7 linked regions of the Homo sapiens genome follow. The protein of the gene in region 7 interacts with the protein of the main gene of each other region in a pairwise test. Each region holds a gene or a part of one and is shown on either strand. Other genes may lie near its edges. The genes, in order: CHCHD3, SH2D4A, RSPH1, PYGM, NEK2, TNIK and PDE4DIP.

Region 1 (3,500 bases), on a different chromosome or scaffold from region 7:
GATTGAAGTGTGTACAAAAAGAATTTCAGAGGATGACTGCACACACACACACACACACACACACACACACACACACACACACAGAACAGATCACCAAACAGGAAATCAAGAGCCCTGGAAGTGAGTAGTATTGATTTGTGGTGATAAAAGTATATTTTGACACATTTCAAATCATAAATAACGCATGGACTTTAACTTGCATGACTAATAGCTCAACCCAGGATACATGCTTATCTACAACTTAAACTACCTCTTTCTAAGGAGTCCATAACATGAGGTGAATTATCCCATCGTGAGTAGACTTTTTAAAGGAAAAAATAAACTGTCTTCTTTATGACATGCAGTGTGTGGATGCTCATTTTTACAGTCTTTTCCCGTATGTTAATGAGGAAGGGCTGCATATCTGGTCAGGGTTGTTCTAGCCTTCCCTCCTCACCTCCTTCCCCCTGCTTTTAAATCTGAGACACATTGGAGACACGATCAGTTGTCAACACTAGGATAGAATGTAACCTTGCTTTCCTATGAGCTATTAGTCATTAGTCATGTATTTGCTAGGTTCAGCTGATCTGATGCTTAATCATATTTTATTCGATATTTATCTAGATGCAGGTCTTGCTATAATTAGTCACTTAGTGGTATCTGTGCCTATACTCTTTGAAGCACGGCTGATTCCTTTTAAATCCTGATGTTCGTGGTAAAGGATTAGGGAAATCTGTGTCCAGAAAAATTCACAGACATCTGAAGTTTGAAATCTTAAAGCATGGAAACTCCTGGGATTCTATTTAATTCTGTTCTTAGGTATTTGACAAAGCAGTAAGGTAATGAATGAAAAAGTAAAAGTGATGTTATAGAAAAATTGTTGAAACATTTTTTTTTCTCTGTATGTCTGTGTTCTTTAGAGGATAGTAGGAAGTCAGGGAACCACCAACATGCTTTGCATTTCTATTCTAGTAAAATATATATTAGCTTAGTGTACTGGATAAAAATAATGAGACAAATCATCACCCAGGCGTTTCCTTATTGATGAGAAATATTCCCCCTGTGTTCTCTAGGGGTTTTGTTTGAACCCATTAAATTTAAAATAATGTGATTTCAAGATTACTATGGAAATAACAAATTTAAATTTCAAAAATAGAAGTGATAAGACTGGAAGCTTCTTGTATTAAGACTAATTTGAAAAAACACGAATTTCAAGATTAAAAGTAGTAATATTGTGCTTTTTTTCTCTGTATGTATTTAATCCTTGCAGTCCAAACTTCCCTGCCGTATTAATCAGAATATTTTACCTTCATTCGTATAACTCATTTGGTTCATTATCATTTTTCAAGCATATATTATAAGGTTTTTGGAAACATTTACATTTGGTCTCACATATTCACAGAAGCAATCTGACTAAAATCTGAGATTTGTAAGTATAAGTAGCAAAATTTTAACCCAGGGGACTTTAAAATGTTTTCTTTGCACCGATTTGTATTCATTCAGTAAATGTATTACATGACTTCTGTAGGGTTCCGATGTCTAATAGCTGAGGTAACAAAGAAAATAAGTCACAGTCCTTGGAATTTACATTCTAGTAAATGTAGGTTGCTAAATTGTATTAGACTATGGTGTAGTCAGTGTCACATGCATGGCAAGAAAAGTGAATACGGGACCAATGGGGTCACCATAAAGGGAATGATAGACTGTACCAGGGTTGGGGGGTGGAGAGCTAATGAAAGCTGACACTTGAGTGAAGTATCAAAGGATGAGTAGGTTTTTTCCAGATATAGAGGCATAGGTGGGAGTTTGGGCGTAGAGCATTTCCAGAAGCAAGAGCAGCATGAGCTTAGACTTGAAGAGAAGTGTAAGAACGAAACCCTGAATTGGGTTTGTCCAGGCTTCAGCTGTGTGCAGGGTTGGGGGGTGAAGGCCACAGAGTAGGCAGGAACCTGGTCAAGAAGGACCAGCCAGCTGGCCTTGTATTTTGTGTAGAAAGTGCTGGGAAAAGAGACCATCTTCGATTTCCTATGGGAAAGAACCCTCTGGAAGGTGTGTGCAGGCAGGAGTAGAGGGTGTCAAAGCTGAGAGACCAGCTGGGAGGTTGTTTCTTGAATTCAGGATGTGGCTCACTTGGAAGCAATGTAACGACAGTGAGTGTGGAGCAGGAGGACCAGGCCGTAGGGATCTCCAACTTTGTGACCAAGTGGATATGGGAATGGAAGAGAGAACTTAGGGCTTCCAAGTTTCTGGCATGTTGATATGGTTTCGGTTTGGAAGGGATGGTTATATTGTCCAGACTAACTCACAGTAGTGTCAATTAGTGGAACTAATTTCTTAGAATTTATTTACCCTTTGTCATTTTTATCATGGGAAAAATTTAGCTATCTTTGAAGTTTAAGGAAAATTCTTTCTCTTAAACCTTTTTCTACATTTGCAACATCTGTGTCTTACTGTGCGTTTTATGTGTTCTTTAACCTTGATTTTTATTCTGAATGAAGACCATTGGTCTCAGCGGTCCCTGTGTTTGTTTTCAGGCGATATGAGTCTCATCCAGTCTGTGCTGATCTGCAGGCCAAAATTCTTCAGTGTTACCGTGAGAACACCCACCAGACCCTCAAATGCTCCGCTCTGGCCACCCAGTATATGCACTGTGTCAATCATGCCAAACAGGTAGGTGTGCCAGCCAGGCCACTGGGGGCACTGGGCAAATTGAAAACTGGATGACCTGGGGCAGTGGTAAGGACTAAATGGGCCACTGTGTGTGAAAAAGCTTTCTAAGCCCTAGTCATCATCATCAAGAATTACTGTAATGAGTTGATTAGGGCATAACTTGTGTCCGATCATTGTCAAAGAGCCCATATCTTCCTTATGTACAACTCATTTACTTGCAGAAAAAAGGATTCTACTACAATTATACTTTTTTCCACTTGCCCTGAACTTTTGTCTTCTAATAATAATGTTCCCAAGGTCATTCCTCATACTTTTAGGCCAATATTTAGAGCTAGCGAAGAGGATACAGATTAAGAGCTGGCACCTTTGGGCCCATAAGCCGTAGGTAGGCAGAGGGCCAGGTTAAAAAAAAAACAAAACACCACCGTTCAGTCACTGTCCAACGCTTCCACCAGTTGATAGAGTTCACTTAGTTGGACAGGGAAAGGGAAACCAGAGATAGCATTTTAAAAAGAATTTCCACTGCTTTTATAGACCATAGCCATATTCTTCTCTTGACCCTTCATATCAGAACAATATGATGTTCACAGGACGTGCATTTTCTCTAATTTATGTACTTTAGAAAGCTAATGATAAACCCTGAAGCAAATTATCAATTCTGGCAGGTCACATAATTGCCTATCATTTAACCAATTTAACAGTTGGATATGGTTGTTCTGAGAGGCAGAAATTGTTGGAAACGTTGATTCCTTCTGCTGACAAACTCCATAGATTTGACCTTCTAACCCAACTAAATCTAGTGTTTAAGTTACACAGCATGCCTTTCTGCAGTCTAATTTGATGTAGTTATA
Region 2 (3,500 bases), on a different chromosome or scaffold from region 7:
AAACAGAGGCATCCTCCTTTGGGGACACTTGTGAGGCTCTGATGAAGGAATTGGTGGGGAGGCATTCTAAGTGCTTCCATCAACAGGCTGGACAAGAGGCTTTCTGAACGGGCCCAGCGGCTTTCTATATGGGCCCAGCGTGCCCTTGTTTTCTGGTACTGTTAGCTGAACACATTTTCACAGCTCACACCACACATCTGGGTCTCCACACCTTCCACCCTGGGCATCTGGATTAGCATCCAGCCTCGGCCCCTCCGCCCCTCCACTCCAAGCCATCACCTGGATTTCCCCATGCCTGGCTGACAGTCCTGAGTCCTGGTCCAACATGCTTCCAGCAAAACACTGCTGAAAAGGAAATGATGGTCTTCTGAATAGAGAAAGTAAACCATTACAGATTTTGATAAAAGTAAAATTCTCTCAGAGACGCAGGACAAGTTCCTTACGTTTTCTAGCTTTCTTGAATAAATACGGTGGTCAGGGCCGTATATAGATGGGTAATAGCAGATCTCATCTGCTATTACTCTGTGAAACTCGTTAATTTTTCTTCTTTTCCACTGTGCATGTACATAATTACATGCAGATTAAAGGAGTAGATTTATTAAATATAGCTCTGTTAGACATTTGAGTAACATCAACCAAGTACTACATCTGTTATTATTAATATTTTTTCTTAGGTAGAATCATGTCATGTTCCAAATTTCTTGCTTATCCTCAGCAACAATATCCATGATGATCATAGCTTGATGTTTTCACTATATGTTTCCTAACCGTTTAAAAATAAACACGTATGCATGTGGAAGGATGAACAAAGCTCCACTTTGAAGCTTTTTCTGTTTAAGCTTAGAAATTGCTAGCAGCACATGTATCTATCTTGGGCTGGCAAACAGCTTCAATCAAAGGATGGCAAATTTTAACAGTCCTTTCAAACATCAAAGCTGTCCTTTGGATTTTCAAATGTTGGCAAACAAAAGGAGCTTAGCTCTAGGCAGGAAAACAGTGTAAGGAAAAAAAAATGAAAACAGTAAATGCACAGAAGTTTAGTTACATCTGCAGTGAAGCACAATTTATGAATGATGATTACTTGAACTGTGATTTATGACTGCCCAGAGCGATCAGAAACAAGTTTCACAATATTAATGTTTATACTTTACGTTGTGGTGACATAATAGCAAGGAAGTCTTTACATTTCTGTGGGAAAGCACAAAATTAAAAAGCTTGTCACTTGTGATAGAGAGGTGGGCACAGGCAGCCCTTTCTGGCCATTTCAGTTTGTTTTATTGCTTAGCTAACCAAGGCTTTTATTAGTCCACCAAACTGTAAATTCAGTCGTCTTGTGAGCACTCAGAAGGTTGTGTCCAAATAAGCAAAGTACTTTTCAGGTCTAAGTGATTTGGTTTGTTCATTTCTCTTTCGTTTAAAATGATTTCCGTTGAATGCTCTTAATGCCAGAAAACAGTACACTAAAAAATGGTTAAGGTGGTAAATTTTGTTATGTGGAATTTTACCCTAAGTTTTAAAAACCTAATTCTCCTTTTAAAGGAATATTTACATTTTGAAAGTATTTCTCCCTTCTCAAAAGATGCTTTTGAAAAATATTTTTCTGTTTTTTTTTTTTTTTGAAACAAAAAAATACATATTCTGGCAGGGTGTGGTGGCTCATGCCTGTAATCACAGCACTTTGGGAGGCTGAGGCAGTGGATCACTTGAGGTCAGAAGTTCGAGACCAGCCTGGCCAACATGGTGAAACTCCATCTCTTCAAAAAATACAAAAATTACCCAAGTGTGATGGCACTTGCCTGTAATCCCAGCTACTCAGGAGGCTGAGGCAGGAGAATCGCTTGAACCTGGGAGGCAGAGGTTACAGTGAGCCGAGATTATACCACTGTACTCCAGCCTGGGCGAAGGAGTGAGGCTCCATCTTAAAAAAATAATAATGATATATATTTCTTTTGAAACACTTAAAATCATGTAGTAAGTACCACATTTTGGGACACATGACTCGGGGGAGAGATTCAGCTGAGATTGCTCTGGGAATGTGCATTTCTTCTGTGGAGTCTGTCAGCTACTGTAAAGTAGGTTGATGCTAGTTCTATGTAATAGTGTGTTTACATCCTTCAGGGAGTCAGTTTGAAGCAGCTAAGTACTGTGTCTGAGGAAAAGGAATATTTTTTCTTACTATATGTTATACACTGTGCCAGGGACTTCTTAAGTTATCTAATCCTCAATATAACCCTAAGAAATATTTTTTTCTCATCTTTCTTATGGGGAAACAGCCCAAGAGAGGTTCATTTGTTGCTCCTGGAGTTACACACTAGCTAGCAATGGTCAGTCTTACTTCAGGTCTTACTGACTCCAAAGTCCACACTTGATCCTTCCTAGTGGGCCAGAGAGTTAGATAGAAGTCAGCTGTGCCGGGTACCCCGTCCTTCAGGAAACTGCTGGATTTGCTCACCAAGGTTCTTTTTTTGTTTTGTTTTGTTTTTGTTTTTTTTTGTTTTGTTTTTAAACAGAAGAAAGAATCTATGAAGAAAAAACAAGATGAAGAAATAAATCAAATAGAAGAAGAGAGAACGAAGCAGATTTGTAAGAGCTGGAAAGAAGACTCGGAATGGCAGGCATCTCGTGAGTACCCAGAGGTCTCCATAGCACCTTCCAGGCTCTCAGCTGATTCTCTCCCTTAATAATGTGATCAATCTAGAAAGCGCTTAATGTGGGTTGTTGAGAGATATGTTCACAGTAAGTTACCACTCAAATGTTATTACTAACTTATTACTCAAATGCTTACAGGCTACTTTTGAACAGCAGACTCGTTCTCCATTTATTTCTGTATCACCAAAATTATGATGTAATTTATCAAATAGCATGATATATAGCTATGGAAAATAGGTTTTGGAGAGTGTTTAATGATCTTAGACTGTTTATATCTCATTAGCTTGGGGAAGAAAAAACACCATGAAATAGAATGAAAAGCTTCGCTATTTAGAAATGTCTAAGTATCTGAAGGAAAAGAACTGGAAGGTTATAATAACATGTAAACATTAGTTTTCTTGGAAAGGTGAGATTCAAGATTATTTATTTGAATGTTTTTCTTGTAATTTAATATTGTGTTTTGGATTTTTTTTCCCCTAAATTTTTGATAGTGAATACATTTTAACTTTGTAATCAGAAGCACACAGGAATACCAGGCTGGATGTGTTAGCATCCCGCTCCTGCCTGTGACCCAGCCTTGACTCCTATTTGAGTGAGCAGAATGGGTGAGAAAACTCATAGGAGAAGAATAAGCCCATGCAACTGAAGGCAGAGGAGAGGATGCTCCAGAATGCTAGAAGAATTAGGTTTGTGAAAGAATTAGTGTTTCCATCTGACTCAGAGAAATCTGAACTGCTAGATCAACCTGAGGTGGCTTGAGGAAGACAGCAGGTATGGCTATATTTGCAGGATGTTGAGATCCTACATTGATCTGCAGTCCCATTACAACCAATGCCATTTAAATGACAACT
Region 3 (3,500 bases), on a different chromosome or scaffold from region 7:
TTCTCTTTGCTCGTAGCCTGTTGGCCCTGGAAAGTATGTATTTGATGTTGGGTGTGAACAACATGGTGAATATCGTTTAACAGATATGGTAAGTTGCGGAGCATGTAGGGTTTTGTTACATTAACAGGGAAGTAGCTGCTCAAAAATATTGATCCTGCAAGGTTGGAGGTGATTCGCCTAAAAGTTATGCCAACTCTTAGGCACTTTCACATTTTCATTTTCCTTATCTGCATGTGTTAGTACAGAACTAAATTGCCAGAAGCAAACAATATCATTTCCCATTTATTGCAGAACTCTAGACTTTGTTGATAGATACCGTTTTTGTTGATAGAAACTAATCCTGGCAGGGCACAATGGCTCACGCCTGTAATCCCAGCACTTTGGGAGGCCGAAGCGGTGGATTGCTTTAGGTCAGGAGTTTGAGACCAGACTGGCCAACGTGATGAATCCCTGTCTCCGCTAAAAATACAAAAATTAGCTGGGCATGGTGGCGCATGCCTGTAATCCCAGCTACTCAGGAGGCTGAGGCAGGAGAATCGCTTAAACCTGGGCGGCGGAGTTTGCAGTGAGCCAAGATCACGCCACTGCACTCCAGCCTGGGCGACAGAGTGAGACTCTGTCTCAAAAACAAACAAACAAACAACCAATAAATAAAAAACTAATCCTGAGTGGGAGGGTTCTAGACAGTGTTAGGTCCTGCAAGTGAAAACTGAATCTGTAACTGGTGTTGCCACAGTTTGTCCAGTGACTGTTAGCTTGTCCGTTGTGCAGCATGCTCCTCTGAACGTGCCGTTGGTAAGTCTTTCTCTTGTTTTTTCCTTTCCAATATCTAACATTAATATTAACACTACATTGACATTCCCTGGTTAATAGTAAAGCTAGTCAGCTAATATTGCCGTTATAAGGCATCGAGATGCGTATGTGTGTTGAGGTGGGAATATATGTGTTCCTATTCCTCTCATTATTAATGTCTGATCAATCCCTCTAGATAATTAGCAATTCAGCAACATTTCCTGACCCTGGTACTGGTTTTGATCCTTTTGACTTATTTGTTTAGATGAGGTCATTCTCACTGTAAGAAGTTTTGAGTTTTAAGGAGGAGTGTGGAATCACGCTTTTGTTTGTTTTTTGGTCTCTGAAGTTGTTGAGGTGTCCCCTCCTAGTGAGTTAAGAATATATTATCGTACACAAACTCTCCCATGTCTGCATACTTTCTTTCTGAAGAAAGCCGGGGAACGGCTTGTTTGGGTCTACCATCACATCAATGCCCTTTCAACCTGGGTTAGTCCTTTTTGTGCTGCTATAAAGGAATTCCTGAAGCTGGGTAGATTATAAAGAAGAGAGGTTTATTTGGTTCACAGTTCTGCAGGCTGTACAAGAAGCATGGCACCCGCAACTGCCTGGCCTCTGGTGAGGTCTCAGGAAGCTTCCACTCATGATGGAAGGTGAAGGGGAGCTGGTACCATAGCTCAAAAGAGGAGGAAAAGAGGGGAGGAGGTGCCAGGTATATATATATATATTTTTAACAACCAGTTCTTGTGTGAACTAATAGAGCAAGAACTCACTCATCACCACAGGGAAGGCACCAAACCATTCATGAGGGATCTGCCCCCGTGACCCAAACACCTCCCACCAGGCCCCACCTCCAACCCCGGGGGTCACATTTCAACATGCGATTTGAAGGGGACAAACACCCAAACTATGTCACAACCTGAGCCAAGTCACCTCGTTTTGTTTTTTTGTTGCTGTGTCCCTCGTCAAGCCCTTGGCATCACCCAGAGGCCCTGCTTTAAACCGACTCCTCGTCACCTTGGGCTCAGGTGTGAGGCTGTGGAAAGCTATCCTTGGTCACAGGAGGTAGAAGCCACACTGTGGGGAGCTTGGAAGGCTGCGGGAGATCCTGTGCATGAGGGCCTGTCCCGCACCTGCTCTGTGCCGCCCACTGCTGTCTCTACCTAATGCTCCATCCTTTCACCCCAAGGGCCCTGGCCTTGAATCCTAAGTCTAAACTCATCACTAATTTTTCAATTCAATGCTCTTCAATGCTCTCCAGACAGGTTTTTTTTTTTTTTTTTTTTTTTTTTGAGATGGAGTTTCGCTCTTGTTGCCCAGGCTGGAGTGCAATGGCGTGATCTCGGCTCAACGCAAACTCCACCTCCCGGGTTCAAGCGATTCTCCTGTCTCAGCCTCCCGAGTAGCTGGGATTACAGGCATGTGCCACCACGCCCAGCTAATTTTGTATTTTTAGTAGAGACGGGGTTTCTCCATATTGGTCAGGCTGGTCTCAAACTTTCGACCTCAGATGATCCACTGCCTCAGCCTCCCAAAGTGGTGGGACTATAGGCGTAAGCCACTGCGCCCAGCCCTCCAGACAGTTTTTTAACTTTTCTCATTTTTCTTCCTAGAGTTTGTTAGATTCTAAAACCAAAGGGAGTCTTTGAATCTTTATCCCTTAACCTCCCATGATCAAGTGACTGTCCGTGCTCCGTTGCTGCTTCCCAAGTGGCCACAGTCTGGACATCCCCGGGGCTCTCGGCCCTGACCTCAGCCACCCTCTTTTCCTGATTCCCGCTCCTGTGATATTCTACTTTCTGCACATCACTCTGGCCATGGTTATTTAGTTTCCCCAAACAGCCCATGGTTGCTCATGGTCCACCTTCTTGGCTGACCAGAATCCTGTGTGGCCTCACAGTGATCTGTCTTCCTTGCCTCTTCTCCTGCTTTGCTCCAGCTAAAAGGAACCACTGGCTAGGGGCAGGTCCCTAGAAAACCAGAAAATGAAATGGCCAAAATGCTTGATTTTGTTGCTAAGTAAGAGGCCCTACCTCCTCTGAGCACGAATTCTTCATGGACCGCAGGGTGCTCTAGTCTGGGTGGAAGGCAGCTTCCTGTAAGTCACCTGCATCTAACAAAACGTAGAGGAATTTGACATACTGTCCTCCCCCGAGGTTCCACTTCATTTATGTGTGTGTGTGTGTGTGTGTGTGTGTGTGTGTGTAACCTCCTACACACATAGTCAGAAGCCTAAGAAAGACAGTCGGCTTTAGGATTTGATTGTGACAGGGAGGTATTTAGTATTTTGCTGGGATTTCCATGGGGTTGGACACCTCTCATCTGTTCCCTGAAGGAACCTATTGGTTAAATTGATATCTTGTCAGCACTGGTAATAACTGTTTAGGGTTACTGGTGATTGAGCAAGTTTTTACATTTGTGTAGTGATAAAAATAAAGCCCATCTTATTAAGTGCTTTGCAGCTTTAGACTCTACTGGAAAAAGTTCCTAGAAGTCAGTATTTCAGGATGATGAGAAGAAGGTAGAAGGAGCATCAGTAACATCTAAGAGAGAATTACTGATATAAGCCCCAAGTCCTGTTGCTGTTTAGGAAAAACCACCCATGAAATAATGCAGCAACAACCTGAGGGCTTTGTGGAAGGCCTCCCACTGTGCTGTGGGGATGGATTAGGATGGTGGTGGAACAGAAGGGCCTCCGTGTTCTCTCT
Region 4 (3,500 bases), on a different chromosome or scaffold from region 7:
GTAGAGATGGGGTTTCACCGTGTTAGCCAGGATGGTCTGGATCTCTTGACCTTGTGATCCGCCCGCCTTGGCCTCCCAAAGTGCTGGGATTACAGGTGTGAGCCACCGCACCCGGCGTAGAGCAAGGATTTTTTTACTTCCATTTCCCAAACAATATTATCTCTTAGGGTTGATATAATATTCTCTTCCTTTTCCTTCAGTTCTATATTACTTCTTTCTTTTCCAATTTCATTAACCTTATTTGCTGTAAGCGCCCTCTAAAGTTTCCCAGAATCCTGCTGGCCATGACCAAGACCTTGCTGGGCCTGGACCAGTCTTTCCAGACGTGCCGCTTGCTCCCAGCACCACTCTCCAGCAGCCACACCTGGGTGTCTTTTGCCCGTGAACCCTGACCCCCATACCCTCTTTGGTCAAGCTTATCCACATCCTCCACCCGCATGCCAAAGATGAAGAAGTTTTCCTCTCCCGCCTCTTCTGCCATCTCCACATTGGCCCCGTCCATGGTGCCAATGGTCAGAGCCCCGTTGAGCATGAACTTCATGTTGCCGGTGCCTGAGGCTTCAGTGCCCGCAGTGGAGATCTGCTCAGAGAGGTCTGCAGCTGGGATCACTGTGGGGTGGCAGCAGGGGGACAAGTCAACTCAGGGAAGACCCTCACACCAGCTGGGGACTCTCAGATTAGGCTGGCCCCAGGCATAGCTGGACTCAGAGTCGCCCCACCCCAAACTCCCAGTCTTCACCAGCCAAGCCTCCCTCTCACACCGCACCCCCACTGCCCTCTACCTCTTGTTGATTCTTGACCATCTAGGTCCAACCTGGATTTCCCCACCTCTGTTGCAGATTTGAAGGTAATTTCACCCTGTACTGCCTGAAATTCCACCATTAGAGGGCATCCTCATGGGGTTTTTGCTTTGTTTTGTTTCCTCTTGTTTTTTGAGACGGAGTTTTGCTTTTGTTGCCCAGGCTGAAGTGCAATGGCGTGATCTCGGCTCACTGCAACCTCCGCCTCCCAGGTTCAAGTGATTCTCCTGCTTCAGCCTCCCAAGTAGCTGGGATTATAGGCACCTGCCATCACGCCCAGCTAATTTTTGTATTTTTAGTAGAGACGGGGTTTCACCATGTTGGCCAGGCTGGTCTCGAACTCCTGACCTCAGGTGATCCACCCACCTTGGCCTCCCAAAGTGCTGGGATTACAGGCATGGGCCACTGCGCCTGGCCTCCTCATGGTTTAAGCATTGCCCTCTCCAGATTCTTCTTTCAAGTACAAGTATCCCAGGAAGAGACGACTGATACCTCTTCCTGAGACTGAACTAGTCAGAGCCTCCCTAGGGTCCCTGTTGGCAGCACCCACCTTTCTCGGCCAGTGAGACTCGGTAGTTCTCCAGGAAGATGACACGGAGGCGGTCACCCACTGCCGGGTCATGGTTGACCACATCCCCGATGGCTGTGACGAGTCTGATGATCATCTTGGCCATGTGGTACCCAGGTGCAGCCTGAGGGGACAAAGTCTGGGGTCAGCTCTACTGCCTGGCCCCCCACCCCCTATCCTGCAACTCAGCTGGGCTGACCTCAACCTGGATATATCAAAGGACGGGAGCCCAGGGCTGGAGCCTGGCTTCTCACCTTCCCTCCAATCATCACAGTCCGAGGCACAAAAAACTTATTGGGCTCCCTCTTGATGCCTGTGGAGAAACGAGAGGGATCCAGTGGGCCTACCTTTCCCTCTGGGTAGTAGCTCCTGACAGAGGCTGGGCTGGGACACCGTAGGCCTGACTCGAACAATCACTTGCTATGCTCTCTTAGCCTCAGTTTGCCCATCTGTGAAATGGGGATAATTCCATGTCCCAAGAGTAGTCCCAAGTCCAAAGGAGATGTTGGTTGGGCAATATGTACTATGCCGCAGGAACACGGGGGAGCACTGAGAGACAGGGTAGAGTGGCTGCCACTCACGGTTGTACAGGGTGATGACATGGAGGCAGTTGAGGAGCTGTCGTTTATATTCGTGAATCCGCTTCACCTGGATGTCGAAGAGTGAGTTGGGGTTGATGTGGACTTTGTATTCCCTCTCTAGGTAGGCAGCAAACTTCAACTTGTTTTCCTGGAGGCAGAGACGGGGAAGGGCTCACCAACAGGCCACAGCCTCAGGAAATCCTACAGTCCACACTCCAGTCAGCCCCAGGAGGATGGCTACCAGGAGGCTCACTGGCTACTTCTGTCCACTCCTGTACCAGGGCAGACATTGCTAATCAATGTCAGCACTGTTCATGTGAGGTCAGATGATGCCTTCCCACCACAGACTCCAGGCAACTTCCACCAACGGCCTGGGCTGGCAGGAGAGATGAGCTCTATTTGCCACGCCTGACCCAGACATCTGGCCCCTCCAGCGCTCTCCACACAGCACAGCTGTCCCACATTGCATCTCTCCCCACCTGCTTCACTTTGGCCACATCCCGAATGAAAGCTTCATCATCCACAAAGGAGAGCAGTTTGCGCAGCTGGTCCAGGTCAGAGATGAAGTCCTCCCCGATGCGCTATGGGAAGACGGCTCTCAGCCAAGCCCATCCCCATGTCCTCCCTCCTCCCAACACAGAAGGGGCCATTTCCAGGTCAGCCAAGCCCCCTTCACCCAGCAGGCTGCTCTGGGGGCCCTCCCAGCCCCTCCTCCTCCAGCCGCCCAGATGGGGCACGGGGCATCCATGCACCTTCCTCCCCTCCCGTCCTTGAGCTCTGATGGCTGACCCCACCTGACCCCAGCAGGCCTTCCTGGCTTCCTGGCCTTTTCCTAACGCCAGCATGACCTTGCGCCTTCCCTACCAGATATCTGCCCCCTTCCAGGCTCACTTCAGATGTGACCCATGGATGACTCCCTCTGCTGTGTTCACCTCCACAGCCAGGGCCTCCATTAGCACACAGAGCACCCTCATGCAATTAAGATGGTGTCCCTCCTCCAGGTGGATGCGAGGCTTGGGGAACACAGTGCAGGAGGGATTTCAGCCTTCAGCTGGGAGCCCTGATGCAGTGAACCACCTACACGACCATACCCAGCTGATCCCTGCAGGGACCCATGTTGACTCTACTGGCCCTACGGTGGCCTCTCACCTCAGCAATGACCTCTGCCAGCCCGGGGTTACACAGAACCAGCCAGCGCCGAGGGGTGATGCCGTTGGTCTTATTCTGGAACTTATGAGGCTCCAGCTCATAGAAGTCTTTGAAGCTGCAGGATGAGGTTGGACGAGGGTCACCACTCACCCCTGTACAATGAAGGCCTCTGCCCTGGGGCCCCTACCCTGGTGTCTTGCTGAAAGGGGCCTGGGGCAGGGAATGCAGACCTGGGGAAGGTTGGGGGTGCTGTGTGTAAGAGGAGGTCATCTCAGGACAGGGCGGCACTGGAAGGGGCTGCTGTGCTTGTAAGAATGACGCCACCTGTGAAAGGCGCCAGGGCCCAGAGACCAGAGAGTGGTCGGTGAAGGGCGGGGCTTCTGTGTGACAGAGGCGTGGAGT
Region 5 (3,500 bases), about 63 Mb from region 7:
GATTGGAGCGTAAGTCTGAATGGGGGTCAAAGCAAAGGAGAACTACCAAGTGGGTTATTTTGATGTGTCTGAATATCTCTTTGAGCAGAATATTTTATACATACAGATCTTATTAGAAGCTTTTGAAAAATACTTGAGAAACCAAAATATGTATTTTAGACTTTTTAATAATCAGGCTTGCTGGCACCTTCATGTTGGACATCTTTCTCTGAGATCAGTTGCTAGTTATATATTATTGGGCCTTAACTGTGATGGCCCTAATACGATAGCCTTGTATTTTACTCTAGAGTTACTTTTTTCTTTTTCGTCTCTACTGTGAATACCCTAATGTTTTCCCACTGTAAAGGAAGGTCTTAAAATTGCTGCTTTCCATAATAAAAAACCATGACTTTTGTCTTTTGAAATGGCCACTCCAACAGAATTCCAGGTCTAAAACCCTACAGTATGTAGATGAGATATGTTCAGGCAATTCTTTTCTTTTTTTTTAACTTTTTATTTTTGAAAATGAGATGGGGTCTCACTATATTACCCAGGCTGGTCTTGAACTCCTGAGCTCAAGTGATCCTCCCATCTTACCTCCCAAAGTGCTGGGATTATAGGTGTGACCTACCACACCTGGTCTGTTCAGGCAGTTCAATAGAGAATCTAGATACAAGATATTTTAAGTCTATAAATAATACTCTGGTGGGTATTAACATTGACTTATGAGTATTAACTGATTAGATGCTAATTTAGTTTTGATATTGAAAGTGTGTCTACTCCACCAAGATGAGAGCTACTCGCAAGCATTTAGGGTTATGCAAGGTAGCTACAGAGTGAGGTTCTTCATTTTAACATCAGGAGACGAGAGATGGGGTCGTATTTGTGACCTGTCACCCTCATGACTCACCTGATTTTACTTCTGCAGCTTTATGCCCAATCCAGGCTTTAAATAATGAAATATTGTATAGTCCTGTGAGATATGCTTACTGTATAGGTACAACCTATACTTACTTGGAAACCTCTGTAAAAAATAAGAAAGCTTTTTCTTATAACTTTCCCCAGTGTTTCATAATTTCTTTTCTTTTTTTTTTTTGAGATGGAATTTCACTCTTGTTGCCCAGGCTGAAGTGCAGTGGCACCATCTTGGTTCATTGCAACCTCTACCTCCCGGGTTCAAGCAATTCTCCTGCCTCAGCCTCCTGAGTAGCTGGGATTACAGGCGCCTGCCACCATGCCTGGCTAATTTTTGATTTTTTAGTAGAGATGGGGTTTTGCCATGTTGACCTGGCTGGTCTTGAACTCCTGACATCAGGTGATCCACCTGCCTCGGCCTCCCAAAGTGTTGGGATTACAGGCGTGAGCCACTGTGACCAGCCATAATTTCATATAGCAACTGAAATCTGAATACTTTCTGAATTTGGGGCCATGAATAAATAGTAACATTTGTTATTAATACTAATCCTATGAACTACCACCTAACTGAATTGTGTTTTTTTTCTTTTGTTTGGGTGTGGTCATTCAACCAGAAGAAGGAGATTTTTGTACTGTGAGGCCAGATCATGCCCTGAAAATTAGCTGTTGCTTATCTTCAGTGAAGAGCAGAGATAGCTTTAGTTTTTTGTTTTCCCAAATGAGTTACTCCCACAAAAGATGACCAAAGGTTGAAGCTAACTTTGTATTTGTTTAAACAAGTCCTTTCAAGAAAATCTAAGATAACATACAGCCTACTAAAACACTCAATTAAAAACTAACATAATCAGGTTGACTGAGGCATAGTGAGAATCCTTTCCCCAAACATTGCTTATCAGTATCAGGCATGCTAGTAGTGATAAGATTGCCAAATGTAAATTGTTTTTTAGTCAAGGTCAGTTGTTAATTTTTTTTTCTTTGTCCATTCTCTTTTTAAAGAGAAAGAACAGGAGCTTTGTGTTCGTGAGAGACTAGCAGAGGACAAACTGGCTAGAGCAGAAAATCTGTTGAAGAACTACAGCTTGCTAAAGGAACGGAAGTTCCTGTCTCTGGCAAGTAATCCAGGTATGAGAATCAACTTGGTCAACAGAAGCTGGTGCTACAAATGAAGAAATGTGCACCAGTGTTGCTCCCAAAGTGGCTTAGGTAGCCCTTTTCATTTACAAATCTCAAATTTTAAGATGGATTTCATTGAATATATGCATTTCAATGGAAACAAAATTCTGTTATAGCAATGATTTATTTCCTGGGTTCATAGACCTGAGGCAATGAGTCATAGAATTTCATGTTTGATTTTCTTTACCTTATCAAACTACATGTTTAGTAATTGATACTTATTTTTATTATCATTATTTATTTTTTTATTTTTTTTGAGATGGAGTCTCACTCTGTAGCCCAGGCTGGAGTGCAGTGGCACAATCTCGGCTCACTGCAAGCTCTGCCTCCCGGGTTCACGCCATTCTTCTGCCTCAGCCTCCCAAGTAGCTGGGACTACAGACACCCGCCACCAAGCCCGGCTAATTTTTGTATTTTTAGTAGAGACGGGGTTTCACCGTGTTAGCCAGGATGGTCTCGATTTCCTGACCTCGTGATCCGCCTGCCTCGGCCTCCCAATGTGCTGGGATTACAGGCATGAGACACCGTGCCCAGCCGATACTTATTTTTAAAAATTAGGGCATTTACAAAACTATTGTATGTTTCAGATTTCAGAGAGATAAACTGCATTTCAAGTAAAAATAAACATTTTAATATTGCCATGCCTCATTTTTCATAGAAAGCATGGCTTAAAAGGCATGATAAGCCACCTGCAGAATAGGCTGTCACGTTTGGATCTTTGCTAACACCCTTTCAAGTTGAAAGACATATTTGTTGAAATTTGATTGTTTAATATCTACATATGTTCTCTGCATTTCCTTCTTTATTTAAAGTCTGGTATATAGATATTCAGCTTTCTCAGGGCCCTGCCTTTGTGTGGCATTGTCCCTTCACTCTGCCGCACTGAGATGTGGTTATCGTATATACCAGTGAACCATTGTCTAACATTCTCCATTTTATAGAAACCCTCAATCTAATTTAATCGACTCTTTAAGATTATGTAAAATGCAAACTGTGAAACATCTTTTTGCTTGATTTATGACACAAACTAACTGTTAAAAGTTGTTGGTTTCAAAAATCGAGCATCTGAATTTTCAATAAAATTTAGAGTTTTTATAACTCCCTTATTCCATGTAGGACAGCATATATGAAAGCTATTATTCCCATCTTTAATAAATTGAGATGTAGTGTGATCAATTTAGTGAGCATTGGCAGCATTTTGTAAATGGAACAGACAAAAAACCCTACTTAAGTTAGATTGATGATCACAATAACTTTGTAGTGAATAAGTGATGGAAAGAAATGAAACTACTGATAGAAGTAAATGAAACAAGGATTATATGAAACTTTGGCTTCATCTCTGTTAAAATACCTTCTTTTTTCCCAATATTGCAGTCTACCATTTCAATATTATAAAAATATTTATTCTGGCTTTTCATAGATTCCACACTGTC
Region 6 (3,500 bases), on a different chromosome or scaffold from region 7:
TGTATATCCCTTTGTCCACCCCAGTTCCCCAAAGGTCAGGTTGGTCTTAGTCCAAACCTGGTGATGTGGGCCTAAACTATATTCAACCCTGGCCCACTACTCTGACCTGATGTGGTCTGGGTGGACAGTAGCTGCAGGTGGCAAAGATGGTTCCAGCCATTTAGATTTCCCAGAAAACAAACATAACCTAGTAAAACTCCAGCTCCCACCCAGTCTCTAAGAATCAAAAAACCAGGAGTGATCTGGGTATGGATACCCACATTCCGATTGAAAACCTACCCCAGCAGGGCTGTTCCAAGCCATGCCACACCCTTAGGAGTAGGCTGGGGCCACACCAGTTGTCTGCAACCCAAGGTTTACAGCCAGGGGCACACAACTTGGAGGGAAGAGCAGCCCTTTCTTTTCTTCATTGTGGTTTTCCATAGGCCCTCTCTGTCCTTCTCCGTTTTGATTCATTGACCCTAAGAGTAGCATTACTTTCATATGCAGCATTAGGTGAATGTCAAGCATTTCCAGAGACCTCCCTAAGAAGTTGTTGTTAGCATTCTTCTGAAGAAGCTGTAGAAATGAAGTAGCAGAGACTTTAGACTAGTGACAAAAGCAACTACCTAACAAAAGTTAGGTATTGACTGACTGAAGGGCTAGGCCATAGCCCAAAATATTACTTTCCTGGGGCAGTGGTTCTTTAACATTAAACATTCAGCTCAAGCAAGCAGTAACCCAAATTTTTCTCACGTTTGTCAGTTGTTTGATAAAATGACTTAACAGACTCAGACCTAATGGACTGTGGTTCTCCTCATTAATGCTATGATCTCATTTGCCCTGGGATATGCCACCATCAGCAGAGAAACCATGCGTTAACTCTTGAAATGCCAAAATGAGTAGGCATTAAATACCTTGCCCTATCTGACCACACTATTTAATGTTTTTATCTTAAATTTAAAAAACTGAAATCTGAAACTGTATGATAGTCAGTAGGCCTAAAACTCCCCCTTGACTTTGAGAATTTGAAGGGATTCCCTTCCATCCTGAAGTCTACTTTCTTGTCATTTAAGGGTGAGAGAAGGGAAGCTTCTGTGCCTTTCTAGAAATTAACAAAGAACCTGTTGGGTCCTAGACCAGAAATCCAGCACGTTATCCTAGCATGAAACTCCCTTTTAAAAAGTGAACACCCAAAGAGATGTTACAAATGAAGATATAGCCCCTTCAGCATCTCTGGAGACCAATACCACAATAAGGAATAATAACAACCTAGGAATAAAGGCAGGAGTTTTTACATAGGATGCACGATATCCAAAGGGACTTTATAAACACAAGCCATTGAGTCTTAAGACCTGACACATGGCAAGGATAGGACATGTGAGAGAAAATGGATGGACGGTTGAAGAAAAGAGGGGAAAAGACCATGCAGTTGAACTAACTTCTTTTTAATTTCAAACAGGTATTTTTTGCATCCGTGCGATCTGGAGGAAGTAGCCAAGTGTTTTTCATGACCCTCAACAGAAATTCCATGATGAACTGGTAACAGAAGAGCACTTGGCACTTATCTTCATGGCGTTATTTCTAATTTAAAAGAACATAACTCATGTGGACTTATGCCAGTCTAGAGGCAGAATCAGAAGGCTTGGTTGAACATATCGCTTTCCCTTTTTCCTCTCCCTCCGCCCCTCCCAGTACAGTCCATCTTTCAATGTTGCAGCCTGGTTGAGAAGGAGAGAAAAAGGTGGCAGGAATTTCCAGGAGATCCCCAAGAATGCTGCCTTGTCTGTGGACAAAGATGGACCATGTGCCCTTCGGAATTAGGGATAGAAACAAATATTGTGTGCTCTTAACGATTAAGCTGTGTTATGGTGGGTTTTCAGGTTTTTACCTTTTTTCTTTACCCCTTTACTCTGCAAGAATGGGGAAAGAATGCATACTGCGAAAATGAGTCTTTTAAATTCTGTCTGCCTACTAGTTTTAAGTATATGGTATGTTGTAAAATTTCCAATGATGAGAGACAGCACAATAAATGTACCTTATCTCCTTAGGCTGAAGGCCATAACTACATAGTGGAGTAATTTAAGAACTCTCTTGCCTTCACCAACCCAAAAGGTTGCTTTTTGATAGCAACTGGCTAATGAATTTTTAAAAAGAGAAGAAAAATACTAGTTTTCCCCTCTTTTGGGAAATAGATTTTAAATGGCTAAACTACTAGCCTTAAAACTACTAGTCTAATAAAATCAACTACCACTTTTGTGAATCTGACAGGCCACATTTTTATATGGCCCTTTACAGAATGGAGTGTGTTGAACAGGATACTAACGCCATTGAGTTGAGCTGGCCTAGCGATGGAGGGACACTCTAACACAACTTTCCCTCAGCTATTATGCAACAGATCAGGGAAAAAGATGGGATGACAGATGGGGTCAGACAGAAAGAGCTTCTGGGAAACAAGCTTACATAGTCTTTTTTAAAATGCACAAAGCCTCCCAGCTAAGAGGTCACTTGGTTTGGGCTTCATTAGGACTGAGACTTTGTTGAGTTCTTTCTGGGACTTGGAGAGTGGATGATATTCAGGCTCTGAACATTCCCAGCGCTCTCCCGAGGGTGCCACTTTCTCAAGATGAAAACTGTGACTGAAAAAATTAATAATAAATGTTTCTGAGCTGCCTGTGTTCTCCCTGTGTGGGTGAGAGAAGGGACTAGACTCCTAAGCCTGCCTCAGATACAAGAGGCATCATTGGCTCCAATTTTAGAGAACTTGAAAGCAAGGCTTTGGACAAAATTTTGAGACCCTAATCACTTTACCTTCCTCCAAATTACCCAACATACGGTAAACAACATTTGTGCAGAAGTATGTATGTATTTAGTTCAGGTTGACTTGTGTCCTTATAAACTCTTACTCAAATGATTTGAACTTTTATGCGACTGGGATTTTTTTTTTCCAAAGCTACAAGCATGGCCGCCTGTGGTATCGAGGTGTTGCAAACAATATCTGTGTTGCGCTTCCTGTTTTAACCTACCTCGTTTTGTTTGTTTTTGTTTCACTGTTCATCACAGCAGTGTTATCTCCAGGAGACATATAGAGAGCTCAACCGGCAATCTCAGGTGCATTTAACATTTTTAAAACGAAACAGTAGTTGACCAAATTTTTCTTCTTAAAAAATTGGAAGTGGGGGGAATCCAATGACAAAAACTAATGTGGCTTGTTTCTGGAGAAAATAATTACTGTAAATGGAACAACAACAACAAAAAAAACTACGATCTTACTGACTTTGCCTAAATACACAAGCAGCTGATGTACTATTAATGAGAACGAAATACACATTAGGAAAATGGAGCCATTTCAATCTAGTGGTTTGGGCAAGATGGGGAAGAGAAGGGGAAACATTCTAGTTTCTGGATTACATTATTATGCCCCTCCTGAAAAGGTGGTTGTCATTTGCATTTATTTAAAGCAGGTAATATGCAGGAATGTAACTGAGGATTATCTTCAGGCAATCAGCAAGATATCCTCC
Region 7 (3,500 bases):
GGATTTTAAAATAAAATTGACTAAGGGTTACCAAGCCGGGAGATGGTTAAGGCAGTTAGAGATTCTAAAGCAGCGTTGAGAACACGATTCAAAGAGCTGACTCTGACGTCTAGGTTCAGTATGGAGGTGAATAAACAGCAGATGGCCTGGAAGATACAGAGAGTTGAGGAACTGGAATACATGACGCAGTAAACAACATTCAGAAAGAATGAGGAAGTGGGGGACTTGACCTGTGGTCAAGAAGTATAATTTCAGCATTAAGGATCCTAAGGGTGGAAAATCTGGAAGAAAGATGAGCTACAAAAGATGGCTGTGCTGATAGCATACTGAAGTGAATTCGAGTTAAGGCTATGTCAGGTCAAGGTATAACAGTGATGTATGTCCATGCCTAGTGACCCCTCTAGAATGTCAGTCTCTGGAAGGGAGGGTTTTTAGATCATTCACTATCATCTGTCCAGCATTAAAGAAGTCTAGATCATAGGAATTGGATGCGTATTTCTTTTTTTTTTCTTTTCCCGTAACTGAGGAAACAAGACACATATTTCTTAAACAATGATAAATACAATCTGAATGTATAATGGTGTCAAGTTTGATAACCTGTTGTATCCATTCTACAATAAGGAGACACCCACCAAACAGATATTCCCATCGGCCTTTTGGGGAATGTTCTCTGGAAAGCTCTTAATAGATGACCTTCTAAGTGCTAGAGGCAATGTTAGATGCTGAAGACTTATAGACAAAAACGTTTCATTCTGCCGATAAACTTGGAGTATGGAAAATATCAAGTTAACCAACTAGCTACATGCTACAACAGAGTAGGCAGAGCGTGTTCTGGCTACACCCAGATCTAGGTTCTAAAAATAATTCCTAAAGGAGGTACTTCTGAATCTAACCTCTGAAGGGTATACAAATTTATCCCAGCAAAGGCAAGGCTAGATGTGTAGGTGGGAACAACTGGTATATTAAGGCCCACTCATAATAATTTTAGCTCAGGGTAAATTAAGTCGCAATGACTCTCCAACCAGCTCCCCGGGTCTGCTGGCAATAATGCTGCTCCTGTGGTGCCAATAACCTGAAAATCTCCAAGTAATACAAGAAAGTTATACACAGAAAACCTCCAAGTGATACACAGAAAAACCTAAAACCAACTCAATTCCAAACTTTACATGTTGTCATTTGGTAGACACAAATGTGAACTTCTTCCTGCAATAAAAACCTATGTTGACTTAGTTTAAAAGCAGCATATAAAGGATGTTGCCCATAATCCCCTAACCAAACAAGGCATCTATTTTCTCTTTTCTCTGTCCTTGTAATAGACATCCTAATAGGTATACATAGTTTTGATGTAATTTACATCTATCTTTTACTTTCTTATGTTAAAATTTTCTGTTTATTATCATTTCAGGAAACGTTTCAGGATAGTAATAGAGATTAACAGCAACAGTGAAGCATTTTACCCTAGAGAAGGGTAAAAGTTGGAAATGTTGCTATTGATTCACCTAGGTTATGCCACTTTAATGTCAGTGTGCCTCAGTTTCCCCCTTTACAATACAGGGATTCAGGTCTTGAAAAAGATATTTAAATTGAATGCAATATCTTTCTTATGGGACTATAACTTTAAGTAATTTGCAATGTACTTTCAAGAACTGGAAATGTTGACATAGTTATTCTACTTCTGAACATCTCTCATTCAAAAAATAATGCTGTGGAAGAAGATGCTTTATGCACCTAGACATTTATCAAGTATTATTTATAATAGTTAAAAATTGGAAGTCTACATCCTTTGGGTTAGGCGTAATGATTTAAAAGACACTGTAAATCCACAGCATGTTATTCTACATTATGAATGATAATATACCACATTATGAAGTGGAAAATAAATTCATTCTTAAATTGTGTGAAATGCTAGAAATTATTCAATTTTCTTTGTGAGTCAATGCTTTCTAGTTTTTTTTTTTTTTTTTTTTTTTTTTTTTTTTCCGACAAAGTCTTGCTCTGTCACCCAGGCTGGAGTGCAGTGGTGTGATCTCGGCTCACTGCAACCTCCACTTCCTGGGTTCAAGCAATTCTCATTCCTCGGTCTCCCGATTAGCTGGGATTACAGGCACCCCCCACCATGCCCACTAATTTTTGTATCTTTAGTAGAGATGGGGTTTCAACATGTTGGCCAGGCTGGTCTCGAACTCCTGACCTCAAGTGATCCTCCTGCCTTGGCCTCCCAAAGTGCTGGGATTACAGGCGAGAGCCACTGTGCCTGGCCAGTGAATGCTTTCTATATGTCAGAAGTTATTGCTTCTTTCCACCCTTTCCACCATGACCATGATAAGAAGACACTAGTTGCAAGTTACCTCTTCCCTCACTGGCCTTGGAAAAGACAAGAAAGAAAGACGTTTCTGTGGAATGTAACAAGCAGAAAAGGACTGAAGATAATGAGACAGATTAAGGAAAGATGAATCACAGGCTGTGAAAGTGCTATGAAAATAAAACAGTATTATTATACAATTTATTATAAATAGTCTATGACTAATTTAGCACTTTAGCCATAAGCGTTCAGAAAAAAGAAATTCAGATCATGCTTGTCTTGCTGGCCACAGAACTCAGAAAATGCTCTGAGGCAGAGGAAAACAAGTCCTCAGTGCATTTGAGTGTTTTAAAATAGAATCACATAGAGCCACCTTGGGTCAATATGACATCTCTTGTATTCTGGACTTTCTTCTAACTTTAAATGCTATTTGAATTTTTGCCAGAGACAGCTTGTGGAATGTTCTGAGCCCAGTTTGGAATTTTATTTATAAAATGGGGTAGATTTCAATAGAAGTAGTGTCCTGGGGCATCCACTGAATGGATGGATGCTCCACTTAGCCTTGAAAATATGATCCCTCAGCCACAGTCAGGCGAGCCTCCCAGGATGGGGACGGCACCATGAGGTGTTACTTATCCTTTCTGAGACAAAAACAACCCCTTCCCAGTCTTTAGGTATTTTAAACATAGTCTTAGCATGTAGCTGAAAAAATGGGGGTTGGGGGAGTCAGGTCCAGACTGATCTAGTGTGTGGAAAATAAGCAAGTAGGAGTGAAAGCATTGATTCTGGCAAATTCCCCAAGCCGAAATCCAAGTATAGGCCCATTTAAAAGTAGACTGGAGTTGCCAAGGCAGAATTTCCTTCTTAAAATTCAGATAATTAGTTGCTAGCAGTGCTGAATATTAAACAGGAAATTCAACTTCCAAAGATGTTTCAATAATAGAATTCTGAAAACAAGCATTTTCCTAATATGAAGTGTTACATGCAAAGCACCAGCACCATAATAAGTAAAGGTACTGGAATTAACTAGGCCTTCATACAACACATACTAGTTGTGTGAATGCCAGCAAATCATTTAACCACTTTAACCTCAGTGGCCATATATCTCTGGTTGTAACTATGTCTTTGTAAACAGGACTCTCTACTAACTCACCATAAATTCAGAGAAAAATAAATGTCCCTGATTCCTCTAGGCTAA

The links.
Region 1: the proteins of PDE4DIP (region 7) and CHCHD3 interact in binary tests that used the Homo sapiens proteins (3 or more experiments, as listed by UniProt).
Region 2: the proteins of PDE4DIP (region 7) and SH2D4A interact in binary tests that used the Homo sapiens proteins (3 or more experiments, as listed by UniProt).
Region 3: the proteins of PDE4DIP (region 7) and RSPH1 interact in a two-hybrid assay, tested with the Homo sapiens proteins (one large-scale study listed by BioGRID and IntAct).
Region 4: the proteins of PDE4DIP (region 7) and PYGM interact in a two-hybrid assay, tested with the Homo sapiens proteins (one large-scale study listed by BioGRID and IntAct).
Region 5: the proteins of PDE4DIP (region 7) and NEK2 interact in a two-hybrid assay, tested with the Homo sapiens proteins (one large-scale study listed by BioGRID and IntAct).
Region 6: the proteins of PDE4DIP (region 7) and TNIK interact in a two-hybrid assay, tested with the Homo sapiens proteins (2 studies listed by BioGRID and IntAct).

The regions. Positions count from the first base shown.
Region 1 is NC_000007.14:132,795,591-132,799,090, reverse strand, and holds part of CHCHD3 (MICOS complex subunit MIC19), read left to right. Parts: intron 1-2,513; coding exon 2,514-2,649; intron 2,650-3,500. UniProt on the Homo sapiens protein: Component of the MICOS complex, a large protein complex of the mitochondrial inner membrane that plays crucial roles in the maintenance of crista junctions, inner membrane architecture, and formation of contact sites to the outer membrane.
Region 2 is NC_000008.11:19,358,693-19,362,192, forward strand, and holds part of SH2D4A (SH2 domain-containing protein 4A), read left to right. Parts: intron 1-2,510; coding exon 2,511-2,622; intron 2,623-3,500. UniProt on the Homo sapiens protein: Inhibits estrogen-induced cell proliferation by competing with PLCG for binding to ESR1, blocking the effect of estrogen on PLCG and repressing estrogen-induced proliferation. May play a role in T-cell development and function.
Region 3 is NC_000021.9:42,479,225-42,482,724, reverse strand, and holds part of RSPH1 (radial spoke head 1 homolog), read left to right. Parts: intron 1-16; coding exon 17-88; intron 89-3,500.
Region 4 is NC_000011.10:64,749,975-64,753,474, forward strand, and holds part of PYGM (glycogen phosphorylase, muscle form), read right to left. Parts: intron 3,214-3,500; coding exon 3,099-3,213; intron 2,531-3,098; coding exon 2,429-2,530; intron 2,098-2,428; coding exon 1,950-2,097; intron 1,682-1,949; coding exon 1,623-1,681; intron 1,493-1,622; coding exon 1,351-1,492; intron 610-1,350; coding exon 402-609; intron 1-401. UniProt on the Homo sapiens protein: Allosteric enzyme that catalyzes the rate-limiting step in glycogen catabolism, the phosphorolytic cleavage of glycogen to produce glucose-1-phosphate, and plays a central role in maintaining cellular and organismal glucose homeostasis.
Region 5 is NC_000001.11:211,665,622-211,669,121, reverse strand, and holds part of NEK2 (serine/threonine-protein kinase Nek2), read left to right. Parts: coding exon 1-9; intron 10-1,890; coding exon 1,891-2,016; coding exon of another isoform or gene 2,017-2,060; exon of another isoform or gene 2,061-2,705; intron 2,706-3,500. UniProt on the Homo sapiens protein: Protein kinase which is involved in the control of centrosome separation and bipolar spindle formation in mitotic cells and chromatin condensation in meiotic cells.
Region 6 is NC_000003.12:171,061,906-171,065,405, reverse strand, and holds part of TNIK (TRAF2 and NCK-interacting protein kinase), read left to right. Parts: intron 1-1,441; coding exon 1,442-1,525; 3' UTR 1,526-3,500. UniProt on the Homo sapiens protein: Serine/threonine kinase that acts as an essential activator of the Wnt signaling pathway. Recruited to promoters of Wnt target genes and required to activate their expression. May act by phosphorylating TCF4/TCF7L2.
Region 7 is NC_000001.11:148,850,928-148,854,427, reverse strand, and holds part of PDE4DIP (myomegalin), read right to left. Parts: intron 1-3,500. UniProt on the Homo sapiens protein: Functions as an anchor sequestering components of the cAMP-dependent pathway to Golgi and/or centrosomes.